Homo sapiens: one gene and its partners. The protein of the gene in region 1 interacts with the protein of each later gene in a pairwise test. Each region holds a gene or a part of one and is shown in the gene's direction. Other genes may lie near its edges.

Region 1 (7,581 bases):
GGCTCACTGCAAGCTCTGCCTCCCGGGTTCATGCCATTCTCCTGCTTCAGCCTCCTGAGTATTTGGGACTACAGGCACCGCCACCATGCCAGGCCAATTTTTTAATATTTTTAGTGGAGACGGGGTTTCAGCGTGTTAGCCAGGATGGTCTCGATCTCTTGACCTCATGATCCGCCTGTTTTAGGCCTGTTTTAGGCTGGGCACGGTGGCTCATGCCTGTAATCCCAGCACTTTGGGAGGCCCAGGCAGACCTTTTATTAACTGCTCCAAAGCACAGTGTCAAGTGTTATTGCTATTCTGATCAGCAACTAATAAAAAGCCCACCCAACTGCATACATTATGGTTGTTTGCAGCTTCTTACTCACAATCTTTTTCCTAATTACTGGCAAGAAGGTAATAAAAATATTTGCCCCACACATTCCTCTTAAACATTTCATAAGATTCTGTTTTCTGTAGGGCGCAGTGGCTCATGGCTGTAATCCCAGTACTTTGGGAGACCGAGGCAGGTGGATCACCTGAGGTCAGGAGTTCGAGACCAGCCTGACCAACATGGTGAAACCCCGTCTCTACTAAAAATACAAAATTAGGCCAGGCGCAGTGGCTCACGCCTGTAATCCCAGCACTTTGGGAGGCCAGGGCAGGTGGATCATGAGGTCAGGAGTTCGAAACCAGCCTGGCCAACATGGTGAAGCCCCATCTCTCCTAAAAATACAAAAATCAGCCAGGCATGGTGGTGGGCGCCTATAATCCCAGCTACTCAGAAGGCTGAGGCAGGAGAATCACTTGAAACCGGAAGGTGGAAGTTGCAGTAAACTGAGATCGCACCACTGCATTCCAGCCTGGATGAAAGAGCGAAACTCTGTCTCAAAACAAAACAAAACAAAAATTAGCTGGGCGTGGTGGCACCCACCTGTAATTTCAGCTACTTGGGAGGCTGAGGCAGGAGAATTGCTGAAACCTAGCAGGCGGAGGATGCAGTTAGCTGAGATTGCCCCATTGCACTCCAGCCTGGGCAACAAGAGCAAAACTCCATCTGGAAAAAAAAAAAATTCTAGTTTCTGTCATCTCTGGGTATCTTATTCACATGATAATATCAAGGAATCAACCCTTTAGCCCAGTGTATTCACTTGTAAGCCCAATTAAAAGCATTATTTCCAAGGAGTTTACCTATCTGCTCTTAGGAATGAAAGTAAAGAATTTAAGATTGAATCACTGATTAAAATTGTAGCAGCAGGTAGTTTAGAGTGTGTCTTCTAATAGTTTAAGGCCCTGTATTCTTGAAACATGCTACTTAGGAGTAGGACAAAAATATTCCAACTAACTACTACGTGAGATCCAGAAATCTGATAAATTACAAATGTCATTTTACAAGTATCTGTTTAGTCATTGAAGTAGAATATAGCTGGATAAGATCTTAGCAAGCTCATTTATTCTACAAACGAGAAAACTGAAACCCAAAGAGGTTAAATGATTTGCCCTGAGTCACATTGCTAGTTGGTGACAGAGCTAGAATACTTTTAGTTCTTTTTTTTTGTTTTTTTCTTTCCTAGGAAAGTGAATAAACTTAATTGAGAATGTCTGAAAACCTTGACAAGTCCAATGTAAATGAAGCAGGAAAATCAAAATCCAATGATTCTGAGGAAGGCCTCGAAGATGCTGTGGAAGGTGCTGATGAAGCCTTACAAAAAGCAATAAAGTCAGACTCCTCCAGCCCCCAAAGAGTGCAGAGACCTCACTGTAAGCAAATTTGACTTTGGTTAGATGCAATATTGTCATTGTTTTCAGGTGACGGTTTTATGAGGCCTCCTTGTGCATGTGGCCGTGAGCTAGGTTCTAATAATATAACATTGCCAATGTAGCATTTAGGAATAATAGCAGTTCCTCAGCTGGCAGCCTAGCTACTTGTGGATTTTCAATTGCATGGGAAATTAACAATTTAGAATAATGTCCAGAACGTTCCTGTCTTTCTCCAGCCTCAGTGACACTCCAGTCTCTGAAGTGCTCTGAGAAATAGGAGGGTGGAGTATAAATTGCAGCTTGTATTGAAAGAGTGTTTGAAAAGTCTGAGGCTAATTCCAGCCAGGACTGTGCTTGTGCAGGTTAAAAAAAAATGTGAGTAAGTTCACCACACCCTAATTCTCTGCCTGGGGGCTTAGTTCCCACAAGCTTGAGGGGATTCAGTTTGCTAAATGTGTGTGGTGAAGTCATTTCAGATCCCTGGCAAGGAGCAAGCCTCTTAAATGAAAGGGTGGCAATATCTTCAGGCATTCCCAGTGGTTGCCTCAACTCACGTCTTTTATGAAGAGTACCTTAAGCATTTTGAAGTGAGTCCAAAAATGCAAGTTTTTAAGAGGGAATGTCATAGTCTAAGAATGTCGGTATTGATGTTATCCCTTTAAATTGTAGATGATCAGTAGTTGTACGTATTTGGAAAAAGTACAGACATTTTTGGGTTTTGGGGTGTGTTTCTTCTAAAATGATCAAAGCCCTTCCCGGGCAATTTATTAGTCAACATACTATTCTTCTAGCAAACATTAATGGACCCTATTTTATTCTGATTTATTATCACATAGATTTTAATAAATCAACTATTAGGTCAAATTGTGTCCAAGGAAACATGTTGTTGCTAGCACAGTCTATCATGCATTTGTCAGGCCTGACTCCAATATGTGTAGTTAGAAAGCTTCTGTTTTCCTGTCTTTAAAATGAGGAAAATACAATATTTCTTGGGGTAGCAGTAAAGATTAAATGAATTCCTATAAGGCACTTAGAACAGTGCTTCACAGGTAATAAATGCTTAATAAACATTAGTTGTTGTTACTACTATTGCTACTAACATTATGTCATCTATTGCATTTAAAGATGCCAGGATTGGCCAGGCATGGTGGCTCATACCTGTAATACCAGCACTTTGGGCGGCTGAGGCAGGAAGATCACTTGAGTCCAGGAGTTCAAGACCAGCCTAGGCAACATAATGAGACCCCATCTCTACAAAAAATAAAAATTAGCCAGGCATGGTGGTGCATGCCTATAGTCCCAGCTACTTGTGGGGCTAAGGCAGGAGGATCACTTGAGCCTGGGAGGTGGAGGCTGCAGTGAGCCGAGATCACGCCACTGCACTCCCGTCTGGGTGACAAAGTAAGACCCTGTCTCAAAAAAAAAAAAAAAAAATTAGCTGAGCATGCACGTGGTTGTAGTCCCAGCTACTTGGGAGGCGGGGACAGGAGGATCACTTGAGCTGGGGAAGTCAAGGCTGCAGTGAGCCGTGATTGTGTCACCGCACTCCAGCCTGGATGACAGAGTGAGACAAGCCTCTCTCAAAAAAATAAAAATAAAAAAAATAAAGAGGCCAGGATTGATTGCTGTAATGTAGATGTATATGGCTAACATGATAGCTTTACAACCTATAGTTTCTGCTAAAGAAGAACTTTTGGTTTAGGTCTTCAGTCACCCTTTATTGGTTGGTTGGTTGTTGGGATGGCCAGACCCAACGTGGAGGTGACGAAGTCCAGTGGAGTCAAAAGAATGAAAAAGACAAGTTTAAGAGTGCATAAAGTGGGTCCGGGGGCCAATGCTAGTATGGAGGCTGCGAAGGCCCCGAGCTCTGGAAGCCTGCACTATTCATTGGTGATGAAACAAAGAAGCAGGTGGTGAGGATGTGGGGGTTGAAAGAAAGCAGTGTATCAAGCACATGATCTACAGCTGTGACGGTTTAGCATTTTCTTTGCAGCATATGGAACATGTTCTGCTACTTGAGATAATGGGAAACATGTTCTAGTTTAAGATACAATAGATCTATGAGCCTAGGAGTGCTAGAAGCAAGGAGCCAGCAAGTCTAGACACATTCCAGAGGCCACGCCCTGAGCCCTGGATTCCATTCAAGCCACGAAGGGTTTTATGCCCTGGGCTTAGATTATGGTGCTGCAGGGCAGCCTTCTGCCCTTTAGCACAGAGCTTGGTGTTCCCAAGGCCATGAGGGGTTTTAGACCCTGGACCCTGGACATGTTCCAAGACTCTTTTACATTAAGTGAGACATGCAAGCCCTGCTTTAGCTTCTCCCAACAGTTGGTTGATTGGTTTTAATTTTTTTAAACAATTTTAACTTTTATAGGTTCAGCCATTCTTTGGTTGATGGCTTCGCCTTTGGCATCTTGTCAGCCTGATGGCATGATTCCAAATTAATGTCAAACCAGTACTAAGCTACATTATCTGAAATTGTGTGTAGTTATGCCCTTAAGGCAAGAATACTTATCCTGGGACCTATGATCAAGATTTAGGGGATCTAGTAATAACCAAAAAAGTATATCAACATTTGTTTGTATATGCATGTTTTTAGGAATAAGGTCGTGGAAGCTTTCATTAAGTTCTCTTAGTAGTCTGTACCAAAATAAGGTTTAAAATCAATGCCCTAAGGTATTCCTTTTGGCTGCCTTCCTATTTCTCCTGTAGTGCTAGGTAGGTACAGGGCTATAAACCCAAAAGATAAAGCTAAGACCTCATTATCTGGGCATCAGGTAAGGAAGCATTATTGAACACATAGAGCATAAATAAGGATTTACAAAATATGGAATTAACAGTTTACAGACATTTCCCCCAAACTCTGTAAATTTGTAGCTACTGAGTTTAAAGTAACTCTAAAATCATATTTGGAATTCTACAAATTAAAACGTAAGTAGCAAAAAGAGAACATTTATTGTTTTAAATTATAACACAGAGTAATACTTTAAGAGTGGAGTTGCTAGGCCAGGCGCATTGGCTCATGCCTATAAGCACTTTGGGAGGCTGAGGCAGGTGAATCACCTGAGGTGAGGTCAGGAGTTCGAGACCAACCTGGCCAACATGGTGAAACACTGTTTCTACTAAAAATACAAAAATTAGCCGGGAGTGGTGGTGTGTGCCTGTAATTGGGAGGCTGAGGCAAGAGAATCACTTGAACCTGGGAAGCAGAGGTTGCAGTGAACCGAGATTGTGCCATTGCACTCCAGCCTAGGGGACAAGAGCGAAACTTCATCTCAAGAAAAAAAAAAAAAGAGTAGAATTCTGATGTAACCGATGCAGAATATTGAAAAAGGAAAAATGGCTGGCTTGTAAAAAATTTATTGGTACTGATTTGAGGTGGTGATTTGATTGTAAAAGATTATCTGTTCTTTAAACAGAGTAAGGATCAGTCAACTGTAACTTAACAATGTTTTCTCTAAAATCTTCTACTACTTATACTTTAATGCTCTTCTCACAAAATACCCTCTGTTCTAACGTTTAATCACCTAGTTGACCAGTAAAAGATGCTATATTCAGATGACAAACATCAATTGTTATTCCAGTTAATATCTCCCACTTAGGACCTTTGTTTATTGGATCAGGTCCTTGTGAATTTAATTAGTAGATCCCAGTCATCTTTAGATGAATAGATGACACGAGAACTTACATTTCTAAAGCTCATGACTAGACTTTGAATTATGGTGTCTCTGTATTCAGTCAGTCAAATATTTATTGAGTGCATACTGTATGTCAGGGATCCAGCAGTGAACCAGGCACATATTGTCTCTGTCCTCATGGAGCTTGCAGGCTAGCGACCAGGAAGACAAATTAACAAGCAGTTTCCAACAACATAATAAGTACTATGGGTAATCTGTACCCTGGTTTTACTGTGCTCATTCTATAGTAGCTGTTTGGGTGACAGTTGCAATCTTGCCCTCCATAAATGTCCGTCCACTTATGTAACTAACAGCATCTTTTCAGAGTGTATAGGCATCTCAGGACACCTTAGTAAAGATAGAGAGTACAACCATTCTAAATTAGAACTTCATTTTATTTTGGAATCTGTCTGCCAGCCTCTCTAAAGTCATGTTTAACCTAATATGGTTTTCAGTTTCTCTAACAGGGCATCAGTGCGCAAATGCTGTAACAAAATAACAAAATTTAGCAACAACTTTAGCTTTGTATCACGTAAGATAAACTCCAGGGTAAGTTACATGTATCTTTACATTTTTTTTTTTTAAGACCGGATCACTCTATGTTGCCCAGGCTGGCCTTGAACTCCTGGGCTCAAGTGATTCACCCACCTCAACCTCCCTAGTAGCTGAGACTACAAGTGTGCACCACCATGTCTGAGTTGACCTTACCATTTTTCATGGCTCTTATTACAACCCAGGTTCTCTTAACAAATTGAGGTGAAGACGTGTTGTCCACCAAATTGCATCTTTATGCAATTTTATGCAATCCTTACCAAGTTTTCATTTATGAAATTGGTAAATTTGAGAACTCTCACAAAACAAAATCCCCACAACCCTATAATTTGTATGCAGTGAATAATTCCTCTGTATGTACATCGGTAACATGTCCTGATCATATCTTAGAACTGTAGCTTTTATCTATCATGATCAGATACCTGTCATTGATAAGTTTGATTTTAAGTAGTCTCTTAACTTGGACAGTTCCTGAAAATTTTCTTCTTCCTAATGGTGAGGTTCTTAGTACTTGGTGCAAGCTGTTTTTTTCCAAGTATGCCCAAAACACTGAGAATGCACTTGTTTAAAATTCGGAGGATTCTTATATTTCATAGCACACCCTTAAGTCTCTTCTTTTTGCATATGGAGAAACACTGACCCTGCAAGATTTAAGTGACTTGTTCAAGGCCGTACTCAACAGAGTCCAGAGGAAGTGAAATTCCTTCCTGATTTGCTCCAGCCACTGTGTTTCATGACTAGGCAGCATAGTAACGGTGCCTATTATTACCCAGATGACTAAAATTATTGGGAAATAACAAATCCGGCCAGGCGCGGTGGCTCATGCCTATAATCCCAGCACTTTGGGAGGCCAAGGCAGGTGGATCATGAGGTCAAGAGATCAAGACCATCCTGGCCAACATGGTGAAACCCTGTCTCTACTAAAAATACATAAATTAGCTGGGTGTGGTGGCACACGCCTGTAGTCCCAGCTACTTGGGAGGCTGAGGCAGGAGAATCACTTGAACCCGGGAGGCGGAGGTTGCAGTGAGCCGAGATCGCGCCACTGCACTCCAGCCTCGTGACAGAGCAAGACTCCGTCTCAAAAAAAAAAAAAAAAAAATTCACCCAGAGGACTTGATGTGATGTATTTCTGTTGTTTTCATAAATTTCAGATGGTAAGACATTGATTATTTTTGAAGGGGTGGCCTGCCCCTCCACAACCTGTGGGTGTTTCTCGTCATGTGGGACGAGAGACTGAGAAAAGAAATAAGACACAGAGACAAAGTATAGAGAAAGAAAAGTGGGCCCAGGGGACCTGCACCCTGTCTCTGAGTTCCCTCAGTATTTATTGATCATTATCTCTACCATCTTGGAGAGGGGGTTGTGGCAGGACAATAGTGTAATAGTGGGGAGAGGGTCAGCAGGAAACCTGTGAACAAAGGTCTCTGTGTCATAAATAAGTTTAAGGAAAGGTACTGTGCCTTGATGTGCACGGATACAAACTTCTGGGTGCATTAAAGAGCAGTATTGCCGCTAGCACCTCACCTCCAGCCCTAAGGCAGTTTTCTCCTATCTTAGTAAATAGAACATACAATTGGGTTTTACACCAAGACATTCTATTGCCCAGGGATGA
Region 2 (5,872 bases), on another chromosome or scaffold:
GGTTCCTTCATCATTTGGAAGGATATAATTTTTCTCCCTGGAAAACACAGATTGCTAAAGTGAACTTTCGGCAATTTTGCTTAAAATAGTGAAACTTCCCTACACACGTTTCAGGAAGGCTACTGCACTTGTAACACACAAAAGATAATTTAACAAGTTTTTAAAAAATGACGTTATGGTGGAAGCTGGCCTTAGTTATCAATGCTTCTCAATTTTTGAAGTAGATATTATCTCTTCAGAAAATTGTTTGGGACTTTTTGAATTAACCTGTTGTTTTGATATTGTGTAATTAATAGTGGCTGAAGACCTGGGTTTTTCTTTCTCTCAGGACAATGAACATTTATTATATTTTTGTATGTATATAACTTTGTATATATCAATGACACCCAGAGCCATGGATATGTGGCAGACACTATATGGCACTTTACTCTAACTTTTGTAAAAGGAGCATATGATCCCAATTTCTAGATGGGTAAACTGAGAATCAGGCAGGTTAAGTGTGTCTAAGCTTACACAGCCACAAAGCTCGATCTAATGACACCAAAGTCAGTAGTGCATTCTGTCCCATACTATGACACATAAAGAACCTATATTCTTCATGTCATATCCCAGACACCTACTTTTCCTCTAGTACAGCATTTTCTCACCTGTGTTCTGTAGAACTTCAGTTTTATTTGAATACACATACTGCCAAAATAGGTTTAGGTGATTAAATGGGTTTAGGAAATAGTGTCTTAAAGAAAACAAAAGATTTCTTTACTCTAAGACTTAAAGCCTTAACATGCTCATATGCACTGTGCTCATATGCTTGTGAGAAAGGCAGATAGTTGTAGGGTGTAGGTATTACAGAAAGAGGGAAAACGTCTGCAGAACTGCCTTTATAAATGATGCCTAAAGTCATCAATGAAGACAACTTTTTAATAGCCTGGTTAAAAGAAGCTTCACACCATTCTCTTTGAACATAAAGAAGGATGGTATGGGTAAACCTAAGCTTACAATGAAACCTGTAGATTATAGTTCTGTAATAAGCTGTTTATTACAGACAAGGCCTCTCTACTCTTTTGTAAAACAGTTCTTCACACCTTTGTCATGGGAAGGCACAGATCATAGATCAGATCCACAGTGCCTTTCACATGCTCCTTTCTTATCTCCTTGGCCTTTTCCATTCTGGACCACACCTATCCAGAAATAATTTTCGATTTCTTCCACATCTCTGTACCTCTTATGAGTAAGGGTCAATAATGTGGTAGTTGAAGACATGAAGGTGAGGGTTATGTAAATACTTGAACTGTTCCTCCTTCAAGAGCCTAAAAGAAGGAATTAAAATGGTTTCTTTTCATTTTGTTATAGGAGAAAACGCAGGACAAACACCCATGAACATCAATCCCCAACAGACCCGTTTCCCTGATTTCCTTGACTGTCTTCCAGGAACAAACGTTGACTTAGGAACTTTGGAATCTGAAGACCTGATCCCCCTCTTCAATGATGTAGAGTCTGCTCTGAACAAAAGTGAGCCCTTTCTAACCTGGCTGTAATCACTACCATTGTAACTTGGATGTAGCCATGACCTTACATTTCCTGGGCCTCTTGGAAAAAGTGATGGAGCAGAGCAAGTCTGCAGGTGCACCACTTCCCGCCTCCATGACTCGTGCTCCCTCCTTTTTATGTTGCCAGTTTAATCATTGCCTGGTTTTGATTGAGAGTAACTTAAGTTAAACATAAATAAATATTCTATTTTCATTTTCTGCAAGCCTGCGTTCTTGTGACAGATTATACAGAATTGTGTCTGCAGGATTGATTATGCAGAATACTTTTCTCTTTCTTCTCTGCTGCCCCATGGCTAAGCTTTATGGGTGTTAATTGAAATTTATACACCAATTGATTTTAAACCATAAAAAGCTGACCACAGGCAGTTACTTCTGAGGGCATCTTGGTCCAGGAAATGTGCACAAAATTCGACCTGATTTACAGTTTCAAAAACTGTATTGATGACAGTAGTACCAAATGCTTTAAAAACTATTTAACTTGAGCTTTAAAAATCATTGTATGGATAGTAAAATTCTACTGTATGGAATACAATGTAATTTTGAATCCATGCTGGCTCTGATGGCTCTTATTAGTCTGTATTTATAAAGGCACACAGTCCTATTGTAGCTTATCTTTCGTTATTTTACTGCAGAGCATCTAGACAACTTAGTCCCTCCAGCGGGAAAGTAGCAGCAGCAGCATTAGTCACAGGTCTTACACTACAGATCTTGTGAAAGAGACCAGTTTGGTACTAATTATGAGCATTTTATTCAAACAAAAGTTTTTGAAATATTACAACTGGGGATTTAAAAAATTGCAGCTTAGAATCTGATGGTTTTTTTTTTTCTTGATGTTGTTTGTTTGTTTTTGAGATCGAGTTTTGCTCTTGTTGTCCAGGCTGGAATGCAATGGCACAATCTCGGCTCACTGCAACCTCTGCCTTCTGGGTTCAAGCGATTCTCCTGCCTTAGCCTCCCGAGTAGCTGGGATTACAGGCACCTGCCACCACGTCCGGCTAATTTTTTGTATTTTGAGTAGAGACGGGGTTTCACCATAATGGTCAGGCTGTTCTCAAACTCCTGATCTCAGGTGATCCACCCATCTCGGCCTCCCAAAGTGCTGGGATTACTGGCGTGAGCCACCGCACCCGGCCTTGATGTTTATTTTATAAAGCACTGTAATTTTGTAGCTGATGACAAAAGGCAGCCAAATGTTTTTGATAAATCAGTGGCAACTGTATTTTTGTCTTTTGAAATAACTCTGAAAACATCAGGACAACATAGATTTCAACCTGATAGCACACCACACACAGTGAGCTGTTGCTTTTTAAATTCTGAAGCCTTGTCAGGTTTGCTTCCTAGATTTCAAGTGTTTAAAATAATTCTATCTATGAAACTGAAGGATGAAGCAGATCTCTGACTGACATGTAAAAAAAAATGCCCTTTGAGGGTGTATGGTGGAGATAAATGTTTCTGAATTCAGTAAAATTGATTCCTAAGTATATTATCCTAATCCTGTTTGCTACAGTTGGTATAAAAAGGCATGAAATATGTATTCAATACCTCTTATGTAACCAAAACCATTTTTAATTAGCTTTTAAGGACTGAGAGAGCATCATGTTCAACTGGCATGCAGTCTGCCTGCATTGCCAATGAAGTCCTCAACTGTTTAATATTTTGAACTAATATTATTTATAATCTATGAATTTAATCTTTTTTGAAAGACTTTAATAATTTGAGTCTCTGAGAGGATACTTTCAATTTCCATGGGGGACTTATTTGTTGGGGATCTTAAATAAGATTCCTTTTGATCTACCGGAATATACATGTACAGAGTACATTGGATCATGTTGGAAAGAAGGCAAGTGAAAAGGTCAGAGATGAAGTAGCAAAGTTATGGAATATCGTGGAAAGGATACTAGTTGTGAAATGGAAAGAGACAAGTTATAGTACCCCAAAAGCAAAACAAGCAGGAGATGCAAGAGATGCCCCAAAAGGACAAAGCAACAATTTTCTGTTGCCACCTTTATACCGGAAGACTCTGTTGTAGAAGAAAAGAAGGCTTTGGTGCACCTTATGTGGGAGGAGGAGGGGCAGGGCATGCTGATGCTGAGCGTACAGGCAGACAAGAGCGTAGCCTGCTGTTGCCTCCATCACTATGAAATGACTTATTTTACCTGAAGGACCCATGGTTTATGTTCCTCTAATTCCTTTCACTCTCCCTAAGCCCTCTGAGAGAGATGAAGATAGATGATTTTATTGCTACTAAATTGAAGGGAGCACTATTTCTTTTTGTCTTTTGTTAGCAAAAAATTGCAAAAAGAATTGTACATTCTTGCTAAAAATAAATAAATAAATAAAAAATTAAAAAAACAAGGGACCTAACAAAACTCAGCAGTGTTACTGTATTTTTAAAAAATATTTTTATAGACTCATTTTCAGGTTATTAAATGTAAGAGAAACAGATACCCCTCTTTTTTAAAGTAGGTAAATCATTGATGATTTATATTACCAATTTTTAGAAGTAATTTTCTAGTAAGCTTGTGGCATCAGAAAATACTAGAAGATTTTTTTAGTTAAATTAGTTAGAACATTTATGAATGAATATAATAAATATTTTTTCAGAATAAAATATGGACCCTTTGTGTTTACTAATAGATAAAGCCAGATATAATTTTTTGTTTTTAAGGCCACAAAATATGGCCTTTGTTAAAGAACACTAAAGTTAGAAATCTAAAGTTAGAGCAACTTTTTAATGGCTATTTCCTATTATTGTAAGTGTTAAAACCCCTGCAGAATTCTTGATAAGGTGCTATTTATACTATATTTCTTATTATAAGATAACTGTCTTTAGTCTTCTTAGTACTAGTCTTTTTAGTACTAAATCAATCAGTAAACATCATCATTTCACCCCAAAATTTTGTCACAGAAAAGGCGTATCAAATGAAAAATAATTTCAGAGATCTTTCTTTCAAGATATTTTTTCCTGATAAAATACATTGTCTTGAAGTAAATACATTGTCAAAACCTAATTGCAATTCTGTTAAATCTAAGTAATTTTTAGACAGTGTTTCACCGTATTATTTAGGATGTGAAATGCCATTTCTTTCACTGATTACACCATATACAGGAAACAGGTAAAACAGTGAAAACTTTATTGTGCTGGTTGATGCCAACTTGGTTGAAAAGCTCTCTGCAGAAGAAGTGATCTAGACTGACAGAAGTGTTGCTAATTACAAGTTGTGTTCTCATGACGTAATTAGAAAGTAACTTCTCAAAGTACAACTTTTATGAAAAAAATAAGCTGTTAAAAAAAGGAAATCGTAGGTTAATTTAATTGGGAAAATGGGCAATTGACAGAGACCATTTTCCTAACACATATATGTGCTAGTACTTTAACTTTTTAAAATTTTACTTCTACGTTTTGTAATATAAAAATTTCTATTTTAAGTTTAGAATGTTATACGTACCGAAAGTATGCAGCCAAATCGATCAGATCAAACCATTTTACCTGGAGTTTGGTACTGGTTTTTACTTCTCTGAATCTGTATAAGAAAAATAAAGACAATTGAACTTCCACTTGGAGCTTTTGACTTTTCATTATTTGTCTGTGTTCCTTTTACTAGGGGATTTGGGTGGTACTGAAGACAGGCTTATGTAACCCTCCTGGCAGACAATGAAAGAAAGAAAAATCTGCAGGCAAACAATTTCTTGGCTCACGTGCCTGGCCTTCAACATTCTAAATGTTCACAGAATTCTAGTTTCCACTTTATTTACAATGTCCACTGAGGTTTTTAAAGGTGTATATATACACCTTTAAAAATAAAAACATATACCTTTAAATATATATATATCACATCATTGTCCTCCCAACACCCTCACAGATTTGACAAGACCATCAAAAATACAGGATTCTTGCTGGGCACGATGGCTTATGCCTGTAATCCTGGCAATTTGGGAGGCTGAGGCGGGAGCATTGCTTGAGCCCAGCAGTTTGAGACCAGCCTGGGTAACATTGTGAGACCTTGTCTCTACAAAAATATATAAACATTAGCCAGGTATGGTGGTGTAGAATATACAACAAACTCTTATAAACCAATAGAAAAAACAAACAGCCCAATAGAAATATGGATCAATAATGTGAATGGAAAGTTTATAGAAGATGAAACTGGCTGGTGACTAATTTACCAACCTCATTCCAAATCAGAAATTTAGATAAATAATGACTGAATTCCCAGTGGCTCATAGGCTTGCTGGAACTCTTTCATTGACCTAGACTCTGCAACCTTTTCCTACTGGCTGTTTTTGAAATCGGTTTCTTGTAACTTAAAAGTTTGAGTTGATAA
Region 3 (7,581 bases), on another chromosome or scaffold:
TTCTGGTGAGGGCCCTCTTCCTGGCTGGCAGGTGGCCACCATCTCCCTGTATCCTTACATGGCAGAGAGGAAGAGACAGAAGAGAAAGAAACTGTGTGGGTTCTCTGGCATCTCTTCTAAGGACACTAATCCTGTTGGATCAGGGTCCCACCCGTATGACTTCATTTAACCTTAATTACCTCCTGAAGGCTCTAACTCCAAATACTGTTACGTCCTGGGTTAGGGGGCTTCTGCATGATTTGGGGGAGGGGCACAGTTTAGTCCATGGCACCCTCATTTAGGGAAAGGAGCAGGGCTCATTGCCCAGGTCCCTAAATCTTTCTGCCTCTATCTTACCAAGGTTCTTGAAGGCCCATTTCCTCATACATGCATACAACAGCTTTTATTAGTATCTTACACTAAGAATACAACACATTTCTTCTAATAGCATCTCACTCCTTAGCTTAGGTGTCCATGCCAACTGGGGAAAAAATAGTCTAGGTTTATCAGTTTAGAACTTTCCTTTGGGCTCATCAAAAAGTCTTGTGCGATTTCTATGTTGTATTTGTAAAAGAAGGGGAAAAGGAGAGGGAAGGGAAAAAAATGTCTTTCTTAATTTTTCAGAATTTGCTCTTTTCGTTAAGATTCTTTGACAATTTCATTTCATGAGACTTGAATACAATATAGATTTTCAAGTACAGAGTCTATAAATCATGATCCTCATGTCAGTCATAAATTGGCTCAAAGGAGGAGTAGCATGCTGGGCCTCCATAATTCCCAGGAAATACCTAATATAATAGCATAAATCAAAATAACTTACAAAGCTGGTGATTTTGTGAGCTAAAATACTTTTCTCAGTAGCATAAGGGTAGAGGCCTCACTCTACTAGGATAAAATGCGTTTTCATTGTGGAATTCAGCAGACGTATGCTAAAGGAACAAGATTACCTTCTGTGGACTCTACATTTCCTCTTACTGGTGATGAGTTCTTTCAAAATAAAATGTAATGAAAATAACCACTAGTTTTGTTCATTTAATCTTTAGAAAACAATTTGAAGAAATGGCCTCTTATTTTAACTCGTCTTCTGTAAACGAATTTGCTAAACATATAACCAATGCCACATCAGAAGAACGACAGAAAATGCTAAGAGACTTTTATGCTTCTCAATATCCAGAGGTAAAAGAATTTTTTGTGGATTCTGTGTCACAATTCAACAATTCTTCCTTTGAGAAAGGAGAGCAGCGCACCCGGAAGAAATCTGATAAAAGAGAATCTCTTATAAAACCAAGGCTGTCAGATTCTGAAACCTTGTCATTTAAAGATTCTACCAACAAAATTTCTCAAGTTTGCAGCCTAAAAACATATAAAAGAAAATCAGTTAAGTTTCAGAATCATATTTCCTATAGAGAAGAGGTGTTTTTTAATGATGCAGAAACTAAGAAATCACCTGTTAGTTCTACTCAAGAGATTGACAGTGGGAAAAACAGCCAGGCATCCGAAGATACTGTGACATCCCGTTCTCTGAACAGTGAGTCTGAAACACGTGAGAGAAGGTTAGAAAATACCATGAAAGACCAACAGGACCTCACAAGAACGGGCATTTCAAGAAAAGAACCCCTTCTCAAATTGGAAAACAAAAAGATAGAAAATCCAGTGCTGGAAAATACTTCTGTGATAAGCTTACTTGGTGATACCTCTATTCTTGATGACCTTTTTAAAAGTCATGGGAACAGTCCCACACAACTGCCAAAGAAAGTTCTTTCAGGGCCCATGGAAAAAGCAAAACAGAGACCAAAAGATTTCTGGGACATCTTGAATGAGCAGAATGATGAGAGTCTTAGTAAACTCACAGACTTGGCAGTAATAGAGACTCTGTGTGAAAAAGCACCTCTAGCAGCACCCTTTAAAAGGAGAGAAGAGCCAGCAACTTCTCTTTGGAAATCAAATGAGAAATTTTTATGGAAGAAATTTAGCCCAAGTGATACAGATGAAAACGCAACCAATACACAGAGTACCACATAAGCATATAAATGAATTACTGCACCAGTAAACTGCTGCCATCACTGTTTACGGCACTGGATTCCACACTGATTCTATTATCTTGAACACAGTTGTTGACATATATTTTTATTAAATTATTGCTTTAGGATTTTTTGAAGTCTAAAGTATTGTCATGGATCTGTTTTTCTTGATATTTGATTTGATCTTTCAAGAATATGATTGTATTTATAGTATAAACCTCTGTTATGAATTAGAAAAGATTCTAGGTTTGTTAATAGGAGACCTGGGACATCTTTCTTACTATATTACATAATGATGTGACACTTGCCCCGGTGAGCATTGTTTCCCAGTATGAAAGATGAAGAGTCTGTACCGAATCAGCATGAGTGTCCTTCCAGTTTAAAAAAGCTTTGCTTCGCTCTCCTAATGGCTCATAGGCTGAATCATGTCTGCCCCTCAAATCAGGTGTATACCAATGTGTTTTTTACTAGCACTTGGGAAAGTTATTAAGTATTTTCTTTTTCCCTGGGCATCATGTTCTATTATTATTTTAGAAAAAAGTCATAATTGGTACTGAATATATGGTATATATAATATTAAAATGGTAATTTTGCAACAGCTCAAAATTAAAAGGTTAATGTTATACACTTTACTATATGAGCTGTGATTACTACCATTAGCCACAGATACCAGTGCCTCAACTTTTTATGTACCTATTGTGATTTAATGTAAATAAAGGTTTGTATAGTACTTTTGTAGTTCTTAAGTATGAAGAAATGGGTAAACTTTTTATTTTGTTAGAAACTGTTATATTTTGAGTGTAATATTTATGGTTTATAGCAAAATGAATGTGCTTATTGTTGAATGCATGTATTTAGAAGCCTTTACTCAGCCCCTGTGTTCTGTGCTAGGAGCTTGAGCTCTACAGGTAAGGCAGAGCTACCGGTGAATGAAAGGAAATCATGTCAGTGAAAAATCATGGTGGAAAGCCCCTGGCATCACATGTGCATGCTGTAGGCAGGACCTGAGCTGCCTCCGCTGCAGGTTCAGATGCACCGCTGCAGCTGTCCTTCAGTTAGTTCACAGGGCTGCAAGAGGAGGACACATCCCTCCAGAAAACAGCCTGAGCCGGGAACTGGCTGTGCTAAAGAGCACTGCTATCAAGTTGAGGAGAGAGGGCTTCCGTGTACTCAGGATGTAGAGTCATTGCTCAGAAGTGAACAAAAAATCAAAAACAAAAGTCTTCTCAAGGGACTGATCGGCCAAGTATGCTTTTCTTTAGAGCAATGTTTTGCCCTAGAGAATTGTAAAATTTATGTCATGACTCAGTACATATGTGTTCGTACATATATGATTGGAATAAAATGTTTATGAAATATTTACTCATAAGCCATGTAACATACTTTGACATTTTTCTCTTCTAGGATTGTGTTTGGTAGGGCAGTGGGTTTGTGTGTGTGTTAATCCTCTCACAACCCACTGAATTGAATTTCATGGCCCATGGTTAAGATCCACAGTGTGAAAACGCTGTTTTAAATTATATGAGTTCGTCATTTGTTTGCTCTGTGCAGCTGAGTTGTGTCCAGACTTACCAGATGGTATGTTTTGCCATTGAGGGGCCTTCTACACAATGAGTGCATGATATGGTCCTTGATAGACTTGACTTGTAGATGTTTTCAGCCTACAATGTGATCAGCTATCTGAGGAACTCCAGTAAGTAGATACCACTTCATTTCAGTTTATATACAAGACAATGTAGTTCAAACATTTTAATACCTTGTAAATTATGATATTCATATAAATATTAGCTCTATAGTCTTCATATATGTACAGTTTTTTTTTTTTTTTTTTTTTTTTTGAGATTGAGTCTCACTCTGTCACCCAGGCTGGAGTACAGTGGCATGATCTTGGCTCACTGCAACCTCCACCTCCCTCCCAAACAACTCTTATGCCTCAGCCTCCTGAGTAGCTAGGATTACAGGTGTGTACCACCACACTCAGCTAAACATTTTTTTTTTTTTTTGAGACGGAGTCTCACTCTGTCGCCAGGCTGGAGTGCAGTGGCTCGATCTTGGCTCACTGCAGCCTCCGCCCCCCGAGTCAAGCAATTCTCCTGCCTCAGCCTCCCGAGTAGCTGGGACTACAGGTGCGTGCCACCACGCCCAGCTAATTTTTTTGTGTTTTTAGTAGGGATGGGGTTTCACCATGTTGGCCAGGCTGGTCTCAATCTCCTGGCTGCAAGCGATCCACCTGCCTTGTCCTCCCAAAGTGCTGGGATTACAGGTGTGAGCCACCATGCCCAGCCAATAAATGCTATTAAAGAAACTTTTAGGCCGGGCACAGTGGCTCACGCCTGTAATCCCAGCACTTTGGGAGGCCGAGGCAGGCGGATCACAAGGTCATGAGATCGAGACTATCCTGGCTAACGCGGTGAAACCCCGTCTCTACTAAAAAAAAAAAAAATACAAAAATTAGCCAGGCGTGGTGGTGGGCGCCTGTAGTCCCAGCTACTCGGGAGGCTGAGGCAGGAGAATGGCGTGAACCTGGGAGGCAGAGCTTGCAGTGAGCCAGGATTGTGCCCCTGCACCCCAGCCTGGGTGACAGAGCAAGACTCCATCTCAAAAAAGGAAACTTTTATCAATAGTAGTCAAAATGGGAGCAAAAATGCAGAACTGGAGTTTAAAAATTAGTTTCCAACAGTTGTCAGTGAAATATTTATCACTATTATGTAGGAAAGTGTGTCAGGTGGAATGCAGAGTCCAGTATGAAAAGGAGCCTGTTTCAGAACGGAAACTGTCAGGTGGAGTGGACTCCCTGCAATGGAGTGATGGAAAGATTTGGTACAACCATTGATGACCTGAGAACAGACACTAGGAAGGTTTGACAAGATCCTTCCTACCCCCACTCCACTGGTGATGTGTCACCAAGTTCTGCTAACTAAATGGGTGGCCTCAAGCAAATCCCTTACCTCCTTTTAGCCTTAGTTTCCCCTTTAAATTGGTGATGGATTAGATCAGTGGTGGTCAGCCATTTTCTTAAAGCAACTGAACTGTATCTTAATCAGAAACTTAACTAGTAAAACAATTAAAATGCAAGTCTGTTGCTTCAAGCAACACCACTGTGGCTCCATGGAGCACTAATTTGAAAACCACAGAGATGAGATCATTTCTAAGAAAACCTTTCAACTTTGTTTCCATGATGCTACTTGCCACAATCTTTTTTACTTAAGCAATGATACCGTTTCTGGCTGAACACTCACCACACAGCTATTAATATTGGAAACTGAGGCAAGATACCAAGAGATTTTTGCACTTGAATTCCTCAGGGTTCTCTTACAGCCCTGAAAACACCTCTTCAAGGAAATAAATAACATCTGCAAATGGTGCAGCTGCCCCTAAGTATTCAAGGCAAAGAAGCCTTAGTTTGCAGAGATGATGATAAACTTTTCATCCTTCCACAGAAAATGAGAAAGCCACAGGAAATACACGGTTATTTTCTAATTAAAGTTCAATGTGTACGCTTTTAAATTCTGAAGTTATCCTTCTTTTATGATATCAAAATAGCCCTCTTTTTTGAAATGATGGTAGATCATACCTTTTGGTCTTTTTCATTGTCCTTACATAAAAGTTGGTAATCATATGTCAGTCCCAGAAGTTTTATTTGACACTTACTGGTCTATAAAATCCAAAGGAATGGGGATCACTGCCTGCCTTAAAGGTTTTTTTGTGTGTTTGTTTGTTTGTTTGTTTGCATGTGAAGGATTTTTATGTCACAAATCCAGCTAACAGTGGATCTAGGATCTAGGCCTCACCGAGGATGTCACTGAACCTGTCAGCCCCAATGACAGGCACACACCTTCAAAGAGCAAGAGTGCCCATCACTTTCTAGGCTCCTTGCCTGCTGCTCATTCCATCATCACGGATACAGACTTGTTTCTGGTTTCATCTTCCACCAGAGATTGCAAAGCATCCTCTGCCCAGTGCTTCTAGGAGGCCTTACTGGGATGGTTCATAAGCCACTTTCCTCTTGGTGACAGCCCCTGTACACTGTGGCATGTACGGCTGGCTCCACTTGGTATTTGTTGCAGGAGGGAAGAACATCTCACTTTTGCTTGGCTAAAGGGCCACCCCAGGAGAGCTATTTTGCCTCAGGGTCTTGCAGGGTTTCTCTAGGAAAACAGTGCATCTGATAGTTACTCTCTGCCCCTAGGAGGAAAGACAGATTCGCCCTTCCTTCCCAAGTCCCAGGCTGTGTGGTTCCCAGCCCCAAGGGTAGCAAGTCAGAACCTCCGGAGAGGCTTTTAAGCATGCACATGTCCAGGGTCCTCATCAAGAGACTGAATCAGGGGGTCTAGGGCTCAGCACAGGCACCCTTTTTGTTTTTGCAGTTTCACAGGAATTCTGATGTGCCAGTGATTGTCAGGTTTGTCCCTGGGCAGGACCCACCTGCCTGACCTTCTGTCCCCCTGGGACACAGTATTTCCAGAGAGGTGCTTCAGTTGCCCCACCACGACTTCCAGCGCCCCCCATCTCTGTATGCAGCTGAGCTCATGATGGAGCCCACTGTGTGCTTTTTGTTGTTGTTACATTCCTATAAAAATGTCCACGCATATTTGAACATCTGTGTTCATAGTGGCATTATTCACAATGGCTACAACACGAAGAAAGCATTCCAAGTACCTATCGATGAATAAGCAAAATATTACACACACAGGAATATTATTCAGCCTTGAAAGGAAATTCGGACACGTGCTACAACATAGATGAATCTTGAGGACGGTATGCAAAGTGAAATAAATCAGACACAGAAGGACAAATACTGTATGATTCCACTTATATAAAGTACCTAGATTAGTCAGATTCATAGAGACAAAGTAGAATGGTGGTTGCTAGACGCTGGAGGGAGGGGAGAAAGGGGAGTTATTAATGGGTGTAGAGTTTCTGTTACACAGGATGCAAAGTGGCCTGAAGATGGATGGTCGTGATGGTTGCACAGCAATGTGAATTTAATGACACTGAAGTGTACACTTAAAAGTCATTAAAATGCTAAATTTTGTATGTGTTTTACAATTTTAAAAATGGAAAAAAAGTAAGACCAAAAGCAACACCTCTCCAGAATGTGTGTTATATACCAAATTTTGATGTATGTGAGATTGCTGACTATATTTTACTTATCAATTTGAAATTATATTGTTTTTATGTTGACACTCCATATAAGCCATTATTTTGAAAAAAACATTTTCCTTATTAAAAGATTGGAAAAAAATTCACACATAGCATTGTTTTTCTTTTTTTGTAAGACAGAGTCTCACTCTGTCACCTAGGTTGGAGTGCAATGGCGCAATCATAGCTCACTGCAGCCTCGACCTCCCAGGATCAAGGGATCTTCCCACCTCAGCCTCCCAAGTAGCTGGGACCACAGATGTGCACCACCCTGCCCGGCTAATTTTTGCATTTTTTTTTTTTTTTTTAGAGACAGGGTTTCGCCATGTTGCCCAGGTCTGGTCTCGAACTTCTGGACTCAAGCAATCTGCCTGCCTTTGCCTGCATTGTTTTTCTATTATATTTCATGTATTTTATTTGCTTTGCTGCAGGTTAAACT

Evidence for each region.
Region 2: the proteins of TCP11L1 (region 1) and WWTR1 interact in binary tests that used the Homo sapiens proteins (3 or more experiments, as listed by UniProt).
Region 3: the proteins of TCP11L1 (region 1) and ERCC6L2 interact in binary tests that used the Homo sapiens proteins (3 or more experiments, as listed by UniProt).

What each region holds. Positions count from the first base shown.
Region 1 is NC_000011.10:33,042,200-33,049,780, forward strand, and holds part of TCP11L1 (T-complex protein 11-like protein 1), read left to right. Parts: intron 1-1,550; 5' UTR 1,551-1,574; coding exon 1,575-1,737; intron 1,738-7,581.
Region 2 is NC_000003.12:149,516,468-149,522,339, reverse strand, and holds the end of WWTR1 (WW domain-containing transcription regulator protein 1), read left to right. Parts: intron 1-1,350; coding exon 1,351-1,535; 3' UTR 1,536-5,105; downstream 5,106-5,872. UniProt on the Homo sapiens protein: Transcriptional coactivator which acts as a downstream regulatory target in the Hippo signaling pathway that plays a pivotal role in organ size control and tumor suppression by restricting proliferation and promoting apoptosis.
Region 3 is NC_000009.12:96,011,203-96,018,783, forward strand, and holds the end of ERCC6L2 (DNA excision repair protein ERCC-6-like 2), read left to right. Parts: intron 1-1,022; coding exon 1,023-2,001; 3' UTR 2,002-7,245; downstream 7,246-7,581. UniProt on the Homo sapiens protein: Promotes double-strand break (DSB) end-joining and facilitates programmed recombination by controlling how DNA ends are joined in a spatially oriented manner during repair.